Linked DNA regions of Homo sapiens: region 1 is linked to region 2. Evidence: fine-mapped expression QTL. Tissue or cell type: whole blood. Region 2 holds a variant in brackets; the other region holds the start of a gene. All regions are shown on one strand. Distances are between the middles of the regions.

Region 1 (5,000 bases), 110 kb after region 2:
CACAACTTTTTTTTTTTTTTTTTTTTTTTTTTTTTGAGACGGAGTCTCGCTCTGTCGCCCAGGCCGGACTGCGGACTGCAGTGGCGCAATCTCGGCTCACTGCAAGCTCCGCTTCCCGGGTTCACGCCATTCTCCTGCCTCAGCCTCCCGAGTAGCTGGGACTACAGGCGCCCGCCACCGCGCCCGGCTAATTTTTTGTATTTTTAGTAGAGACGGGGTTTCACCTTGTTAGCCAGGATGGTCTCGATCTCCTGACCTCATGATCCACCCGCCTCGGCCTCCCAAAGTGCTGGGATTACAGGCGTGAGCCACCGCGCCCGGCCCAAAAGCACAACTTTTTAAGCATTGCTTTCATATGTATGTTTAATGTAACTTATATGGGTTATTTCCCCTATTAGATATTAAAATCCTTGAGGGAAAGCACCCAACCTAAAGAGGGAGGATACCACAGATATTTAAGAGAGTCAGCTCTGGATCTGCGGATTGGAAGCCCCACTCTGCAACTTATTGGCTGTGTGACCTTGGGAAGTCACTTAACTTCCCTGTACTTAATTTCCTCATCTTTAAAATGGGGAATAATAGCACCCACCCAGGGTGGTGGCTCACGCCTATAATGCCATCTCTTTGGGAGGCTAGTGGGGAGGACTGCTTGAGGCCAAGAATTCAAGACTAGCCTGGCCAACACAGTGAGACCCCCATTGCTAAAAAAAAAAAATTAATTAGCAGGGCATGGTGGTGCAAGCCTGAAGTCCCAGCTACTTGGGAGTCTGAGGTGGGAGAATCACTTGAGCCCAGGAGTTCCAGGCTGCAGTAAGCCGTGATTGTGCCACTGTACTCCAGCTTGGACAACAGAGCGAGACTTGAAAAAATAAAATAACAGCACCTACCTCTCAGGGTTGTTGCCAGGACTGAGAATATCCTTATCAGCTGTTATATTCACTTTGGTATTACTCTCCCCCAGTGCTTTGCACAACACAGAGGAAGTCAGTATTTTTGACTGAATGAATAGGGCTAGGTGACCTTAAGCCTAAGTACCTATTGAGCACATTTTCCAAGGATTTTCGGAAAATTTCCTTTGAAAAGGAAATGTTTGTGTAGCCTTGTGGAAAACTGATTCTATCACCAAGGTAAGCAGCCTAAGCGCACCTGCTGGAAAGAAGGCAATCCTAAACTGTCTGTTAATAAAAAGTCAAGGTTTACAAATAAAAGGGGTGCAATGAAGAAAAGGGGCACACTTTAAATAAGAAGAGTAGGTAGGCACCTAAGCCCCACGCGCTTCTCCGAATAAGTCTGTCCTACAAGACTCCTGACAAACAGACCACCTAAGGACTGGCCGGCGCCACAGGGTGAATAAAGGACACCGGCAACCATAAACAAGTCACGCTTTTAAAAGCGAGACATACCAGCAAGGACACAATACCCTACTGAGCCAGCTTCGGCTGGCAGGCGCCGTGACCTCACCCAAAGCCACTGGTGTCACGGCTACTGCCACCGGTGCCGTCCCTTGCTCGGCAACTAACTGCCACCCGCTGGCATCTGCACGAGACCGCTATTTATAACCTCCCTAGGAAGCCGATTGGCCACGGCTGCAAATAGTCATTCCGGCTGTTGAGTTTGAACTAGCTCTGCCCAGGTCGCCCTCTCCGCTGTCTCTTCCTCCTCACCAGCCTAGGCCCCAGAAACTTGTACCCACCACCGCCAGACCGCCCCAACTCACACTCACAATTTGTGCTCGCAATCTCCTATGTCCCCAGCCGGACACCCTCTCCGAACTCCCTCAAGGGTCAAGCATACCTCAAGGGCATCCAGCTGCCACCTCTCTGGATGAACCGCCCATCGAAAGTCCTCTATGACCTCCCTCTCCACCACCCCCGATCTTGAGGGCCGAAATGACCCCGTACGACTCTCGCTGTCCCCCAAAGCTGCAAATATCTGCACCTGCACAGCTGCCGCCTCATTCCCTGCCCTCTTCGGGGACCCAGTTCCCAAATCCACCAGCCCACTCCCTTCGACATCGCCCCAGCAGGAGACGAGAAAGGGACACCAAGAGGCACGGTGCTTCTTCCCCACCTAAGCCTGCGGCCTGCGGACACCCCAATGCACCCTGCGCCCGGGACACCGCCGACCCCGCCCCGCTTTGCTCTTTGACAGGTCTCTCTCCCGGCGAGGGCCGTGGTCTTCAGGAAAGGCCCGAGCCCCTTTCCCAGCTGCGCCCTAGGCGCGCGCCCCGGCTGCCCGCACCCGCCAGTGCCGTCGCGCTCACCTGGGCCGGGAGGCTGACAGCCTTGGGCTGTGCCCTGAGGGCCGCGAGAGGACGTCGCGCTGGCAGACCCGGGCTTGGGCCCCGCGGCGCTGCGCCTCCAACCCGGAAGAACAGCCCCAACTCCGCGGCGGCGGGCGGCCACGTGACTGCAGCTCCGCTCCCACCTCGGCCCGCGCCCCTTCCCCGCCCCAGCTTTCTTCCCGCCAGGCCCCCTCCACCCGATCGCCGCGCGCTCTCCGAACCAAAAGGCGACCTCACGAAATGCCCCTTTGAGCTCAAAGGCTAGTTACCCCCAGGGGCCCTTCCACTCTCGGGGACAGGCGAAACCTCTTTGTCTCTGCCTCGGCCTGCGGCCCCCAGCCCAGCCTCCGCGCTTTCCCTCCGCCAGTCCTTGTCAATCAAACCTGGTGCCAAACGCGGCAGCTGAAGTTTTCAGGGACACATTTGCTTCTCCCCTTGAAGAACCAGTTACAAAGCGTGATGTCCTCTCTGGGGTCCCATCAGAACAAAGAAACAGGTAATATAACTCCACTCCGGGTACCTGCCTTTCCTCCAGCTCGCTAGGAAAAATCAGAACTTCTGTAACAGAGAGGACCCAAGGGAAAGGGGCAGGCGGAGAGGGGTTGGTGAAGGGCGGGAATGGGGGGCGTTGATTTTCCATTCTGGCAGGAGAGGTGGAGTTAAATTCCTCAGAAACGATGTCCAGGCTTGAAAAGTAACACACATCTGCGTGCTTGTCTTCCAACATCAGAGCCAGCCTAGAGGAAGCTGGCTAGTGTCACTGCTAGTACGAATATCCCCGAGGCTGGAAAGCATCTGGGTGGAGGTTGTGAGCTTTCCAGACCAGGCCTCGGCTGTTTTTCTAAAACTATTAACCGTAATGACCTAGTCGTTCTTTTCACACAGTTCTGTTACTTATTCTGCAGGTGTATTCTGACTAAAAGTGGGAGGAATAAAAAATAGAGTGTAAAATGGTTCACTTGCCCAAAACTTAATCATCATGAAGTGTCAGTAACGTCATTTATTTCTATTAATTGAAATTTTGATACAAGAAAAATAATTATGAATCTAAAAGGTATAAGCAGAACAGGTATTCCATAACTTTAAAAAGAAATGAGCCGCAGGGAAACCCTTAGTTTGAGAACTTGTCTTGTGATTAACCTACACAGAAGGTCATTCAACTAATGGATTCCCACTGCAGTCCAAACTCACAGACAGGAAATGACACAGCCCCATGTTTTAAAATAATAATGAGCCGTGGTAAGTGTGACCATAGGGACGGTTTCCAGATACTGAAGGTACAATGAAGTGAGATTAGTAATGATCCCACTTAGTAAGGATTTTAAACTAAGTTATTGATTTAAAACTTTTTGTAGGGGTCAGGAGTTGCTGCTTTGTCTTTTAGGGATTAATAATTCGTGGTTCCCAACTGGGGACAATTTAGTTCCGAGGGATATTTGGCAATGTCTAGAGACATTTTGGTTGTCACAATTGGAGAGGGGACCTATCTAATGGGTTGGGGCCAGGGATATTACTGAACACCTCACACTACACAGCCCCTCACGACGAAGCATTATCCAGCCCCAAATGTCAATAGTGCTGAGGCTGAAAAATCCTGGCTTAAATTAATGCTCAGTACATTATTTAATTTTGACTTGCTTATAAATTTATATCACATGAAAACAAACTCAAAGATAACATACTGTTTTTCACTTTTGAAAATCATGAATGTTAGGCATATGATAATTTTAATAACAAGCATATGATTATTTTATTCCGCTTACTTGTACAACATAATTTGGGTGCCATTTCTTCAGGAGAAAACATTTGTCATTTGGAATGCTCTGTTTCAGTCCTTAAGCTTCTACGTATAATTACAGCATATTATTCATAAACGGAGTCCCCAATGAAAATAGGATTAAGTTCCAAAAGTTTGCTTTTAAGTTAGTTGCTTCTAAGTCTTAGACACTGTCTTGAATAAAATTTTTGTAGAGATTTGATATTCCCTATTAAGTTTTAAGGGCCTTTCCCACTCTGACTTCTACTCTTTCCTCCCTGACTAATTTGACCTGCAAACTCTCATCTTAAAATAGTACCTCTCACATATGTGTAAGTTTTCATTACAGATTGTTCTATTATTGAATAATTTTTAAAATATTTTAAAATTAAAATAAACATCAAAATTTAAACCATTTGAAGTTTAGGAGTTTTTGTAGTCACAAATGCTTAAAAATAGTTTTTAATAATTAGAGTTCTAATCTATCAGAAGCAAAAAGGATGAAACATTTACAAGACTATAATATAACATTTGGATCTGCTTTAAAGCCTAAAAACCAGAGAGGTGCCCAGTAGCCAAAAATCAAAACATAGGCTGAACCTGAGAAGACATGTAATCAAAAACTGACCTCTAGTGATGGCTTGTTACCAAAACCCACCATCTAGGTAAAATCAGGCTACAGAAAAGGTAGCTTTAATGTCTTTTCATTGTGGTTATTATGTTACATGGTTATTGGCAATTTATTGTCTCAGCTTCCCTTTTATAAATAATTATTAGTAAAGTGAACAGCCCCAGAGAGATGGGATTCTTAGATTTCAGTGTGTCTAACAATGCAGACACTCGACAGGTTTTAAGGGAACCATCACTAACCTTAATCTTAGCCCTCTTCTCCCAGGCTGACCAATCAAGAGTGTTTGATTTTAGGAAATAAATGTTAACTGACTAAATGAGCTGATGCTA
Region 2 (5,000 bases):
TTGGTCAATGCCAAAATCTTCAAATAACTTTTGAAAGTCAATTAAAAAAATAATGACTATTCCAAGAGTCATGGCCCCATGCCTCCCCCTCACAATAACCTGAAAAATGATACAGTTCTCTAGCACAAGAATTTGATTTAAAACAATAACAATTAATTTAAAAATCTACATTATATTACGTATTTGAAGATAACTGTTTTCTTTGAAATTTCTTGATTTGGTGAATTTCCACATGCTTTCTCCTCCATTTAAAAATTCCTGTTCCTAACTGGGAACAGTGGTGCATGCCTGTAGTCCTACCTGGCTTGAGGCTGAAGTGGGAGGATCACTTGAGCCCAGAAGTTTGACTCCAGCCTGAGAAATATAGTGAGACTCCACCTCTAAAAAAAAAAAGAAGATGAAGAAGGAGGAAGAGGAGGAAGAAGACAAGGAGGAAGAGGAGGAGGAAAAGAAAATTAAAATTCCTGTTCCTTCCTTCTCTAACCATCTCTTCTGTATCTTCTAGAACACTTCCTCTGCAGAAACTCCCCAGAACCCCCTACTCAGATTTCACCTCTTGCCACAGGCAGTGAGAATCATTCCTCTATAAGCCACTGCCATAACTTGTAAATCATTTGGTTTTTGCACCAAATTGTAATTTAATGTCTTATATGTATCCCATATTATACTGCAAGCTTCTTGAGACAGGTGCCATGTCATGTGTGTATGTTACCTGGCACATGGCACATAACAAATGTTAGGGCTCATCATTGCTACCTGATTATATATTTTACAGATGGGAGACCAAACCAAGTCAGCAGTGGAAGGAACAGAATTCAAAACATTTCAAAACAAGCAATTTCTCACATCTCCTTATAATCTAGAAAATATCATTTACTGCTACCATTAGTTCCTTTTATAGCTTCTTCTAGTTTGAATTGCAACTCCTTACTCCACATCCCTTCCAAAAATCTCATGCTCATGGTCTCTCTGATTCTTCTCCCCTTTGATATCCCCTACCACTATTTTGAATTGAAAAGAACTATCACAGTTTGGGTTTCACCCCCATCTCACAAATGGTTGTTTGGTCTCTCTTCTTTCCAGGGAGTTTTCCTCCCCATCTCATGGAAAATGAAAGGTCCCCATGCGTACCAGTAGCCACTTCACCTTTCTCAATCTGTGTCCCACCTCAACAAGCCCTCTCATCCCACAGGCTCAAGTCCATCAAAAACACCAATGATGCTATTGTTCTATGCTCTCCCTGTAGTATAGTCTAATTTTATGCTCAGATGGTGGTATAAAAATATTAAATCATGGCAATTTTACACATCTGTCTTCTTTGTTCCATTTTGCTCAACTTCATTTCTATGGGGAAAAAAATATTTTTCCACAGAAGCAAAACCCTTATGCATAAAATATAAACCATTACATTTACTGAAATGCCCAAGTACTTGTAATTAAAGAAAAATATCCTTAATTGGCAGAAGATGTAATTCTTGAACTTCCATCTGCCACAGGTTAATTACAGGAAGGTTGTGATGTTTTGTGCTCCAATTTCTCTAGTAAAAATTACAATTAACAGCATACATAGAAATCACTTTTTTGAAAAGATTTCCTGAGTAATACATCAGTATGAAAAAAGTAGATGGGCTACAAATGCTAACTTGTGTTCCTAAAAGAATACTTACCAAAAGAGCTGTGTTTTGACCTTTCTGTGTTTGTTTTGAGATGTGTTCCAACTATGAATTAATGGTTCCTTTCAACTTTTGGCTATACATTTAATACCAAAGCATTGCTGAAAAAAAACTAACAGGAATGAGATGACAGCGCACTTTTCATTCCTCCTAGGGCAGCACTTTTTATTCCTTCCCCCAAACAATTCGCTGTCTCGCTAAATTTCTCAAAGTAAAGATTTCTGAAGCAATTGAGTTAGTCTCAGGAGATGAATTAAATGGCACCTCCTTAACTTTTTTTTTTTTTTTGCTTAGATCAATTCCTTCATAAATTATTTGAATAGAATGCCTACTCTTTTCCTTGTGAAAATAGCACTAATATTCTATTTTCCTACAGAGGCTTTTTAAAATTTCACCCCAAATATAAGTTGTAGTCATAGGAGAAATTTGCCAGAATCTGTTGAGATTACCATACCCTCTACTTCATGCATTTCTTCCTTCCCATTCCACGCTGCATTAAACATCTTGTAATTTCTATTTCATTTAGACCAAAGAAGAATCAGAGGATGTCAGTGTGCAAAGATATCAGTAACCAAGACTAGCTATGACTATGACAATAGGTATCTAAGGAATGCCAGACAGGATGGATGAAGACCAGGACACAACTCACTCCACCAAACTGTGATGTTACGTCATTTACCTTGGTCCCCACCCACTTTGCCTTTGAATGAAGACGTGTCCCCAGCAGTAGGAGAACGAGAAGGAAACACGCCAAATTAAGGTCAAATTTACATCAACAGAGAATATAGAGGCTCAAGAGAGGAATTCACTTAACTTATAGGAAAACGAAGTCATATTTTGGCACATCGAGTTTGTAGTCTTTGAGAAATGAAAATCCTCAGCAAAAAGCTTTTGTCTGACCAGCTGTGAGGTAAGAATGTGCAAGAAGTCAAAGCAAGCGAGGAGGCGGAGCCGGTACTGTCCTGGAAAGCAAAACCCAGAAAGGTGGCGAATCTGCTCCAAAGCTGCCTCTTTTCTGCTCCTAAGGAAGATGCATTCTCAGGATACAGGATTTTGTG[C/T]ATGAGAAAAAAATGGCAATAGCTGCTTACAGAGAGAATGGGTGGAAATGCAAATTATGACTATATAACCAGCAACTTTCATAATTCTATGTAAAAATGGCATATAATTATGCTCTTATTTTCTCTATGAAATTGGAAACATCTCTTCCTCTCATTTTATAAATAAATGGCATCTTCTTGATGAAATTTAACTGCTTTTTTTCCCTTTTACGACTTGCATGCTTCCCTTTTTTTTAACAGAAGTCAACTGAATGGTTAAGTGGACCTTGCCATCAGCCAGATTTCAGTTTAAGTCCAACTCTGCCATTTGCTATTGTAGGATGCACTGAAACCCATAGGTTGTTAATAGAATGTTGCCTAGCACAAAATGAGTACTCATTAACTAGTAGATGCTATTACTATTATCCACCCATTGAACACTTTAAATAAAGGAACAAGGTCTTTCTATCTATAACCTTAAAAAAAGAAAAAAAATTGAGCCAGAATAAAATTCCAGATGAGTCCTGAACAGAAGACAATGAGAAACATATATAGTATACATTTCCCTTCCTCCACCCTGCATGGTTATATATGTATATTTATTTACATAATATATACATACATAATATATATTTTATATATGTGTTTATATATATTTTATATATAAATGCCTTTGTGCTTAATTTATCAAGAGGTGATACACTCTAGAAATGTAAGCATAACCAAAAGTGATTCATTTTGTAGAAAACAGTAACACTTTTCATAACGATGCCACCATCTAAATATTCATCAAGAGTTCATCACTAAAATCCACCCTTTGGAGCAACATGTACAAAACAGTATTCTGGGAAAGACACATTACAACAAGGACCACAGGCAGGACAGATATTCTGACATCCTTACACATATAGTATACCTATATGATTTTTGTGTTATAGTCTTTGAATGTTCTATTGGTCTCATTTACCATAGTGATTCTAATCCTTAAAAAAACACATTTCCTAGTTACTATAGCTATACCCAGTGCTCATGGGGCAGTTACTCCCAATCAGACACAAGGATGTGGACCTGAACTAGGTGTAAGCTTCCATGCCCATATATATCCCAATGGGACAAAACCAGAGCATTAGCTATAATTTAAGGACACAAAATTTTCCATGAGTCAATAAAGCTTTAAAAGGCTCTTTCTAGAAGGAGTGATTTCTGAAGCACAGTGTTCCATTAAACTCAGACTAGTGACAAAACATCCTAAAGGGATGAAATTCTGCTTCATCCCTCTGGGGAAGAAATTATCTCCCTCCTGTCATAGCACAAAGGGGTGATTTAGTGTCACATTCTCCCTTTTCTCTGGAGAGTTTTACACATGACCTTTCAGTTCTAACCCACTGATGCTGCTGCCTCCATGTGTATAACTGGGGACTAGAATCAAAGTCTAAAGAGAATTAACCAGGCACAGGACCCTGCTCCATTAGTGTTAATCACTGTATTTTTGTGAAAAGTGCACCCCCTAACTGGGAGGAAAAAAAAAAGACAAGTCTGGCTGACAATAACTCACTGGCTTTTAAAAACTCAGTTCCAGAAAGGCACTGAAAAGCATAACACAAGGTGGTAATCACTGGCAAAATATGAAGTGCAAAACTTCACTGGTGGAATCTAATTCTATCCCTGACTGTAGACATTCCTGAGTTCTGCTTTTCCCATAGTAAACCAAAAATGAAGTAAGAGAATAGAAAAAAATGGCCTTATTTCAATTTCTAAATGGTCCTTTTCCAAAGGTTTTTATTATTCCCTACATCATATCTCACTGATACTTTGTATTTTTCATATTCCCAAATGCAACAGGAAGGAGGGTGAGAAAAAGTTTATTAGATCTTCATATTCCATCTTTACATAGGGGAAACTTACGCATCCCAAACTTCCTTGCTCTGAGCTCCCACTTCCTTTTCACTTCTCTCTATGGGGGGAAAGAACTAGCCACCATCATCCTAAGGGTCACCTACTTTCCCCAAATCCACATCCCCTTCCTCAATTCTTCTCAAAGTCCATGACAACCACTTCTTCTCCCCACTATCCTATTGCTGCCATGTGGACTCCCCTCTGAATTCATAGTCACCTTAGGCAAGCAAGATCACTTTGACTCTCTTCATTCCAATGTCTTTATGTCTGCTTTTCACAGTGACCCAAACAATGTGGCCTAACTGTCCAGCTCTCTGAAAGTCTGGTTTTGTCTATGGATAAAATATGAAATATCCAGGGACAAACTGGACTCTATATCTTTTAGGCAATTTTT

Evidence for each region. PIP is the estimated chance that this variant, and not a neighbour inherited with it, causes the effect.
Region 1: NNT starts here. The variant in region 2 is fine-mapped to the expression of NNT in whole blood (INTERVAL, PIP above 0.99).

What each region holds. Positions count from the first base shown.
Region 1 is chr5:43,600,558-43,605,557 of GRCh38, reverse strand. It overlaps NNT (nicotinamide nucleotide transhydrogenase), which reads right to left and starts at 2,378. Exons shown (of 22, transcript NM_182977.3): 1 at 2,264-2,378. It overlaps NNT-AS1 (NNT antisense RNA 1), which reads left to right and starts at 2,328. Exons shown (of 3, transcript NR_073113.1): 1 at 2,328-2,780. RefSeq lists silencers at 2,118-2,337, 2,458-2,547, 2,811-3,030, a cis regulatory region at 4,269 and an enhancer at 4,185-4,354.
Region 2 is chr5:43,709,008-43,714,007 of GRCh38, reverse strand. No RefSeq gene overlaps it. Among named protein-coding and RNA genes, the nearest start is that of NNT-AS1, 110 kb to the right of the region's middle. The variant C/T (reference allele first, on the strand shown) is at 2,732.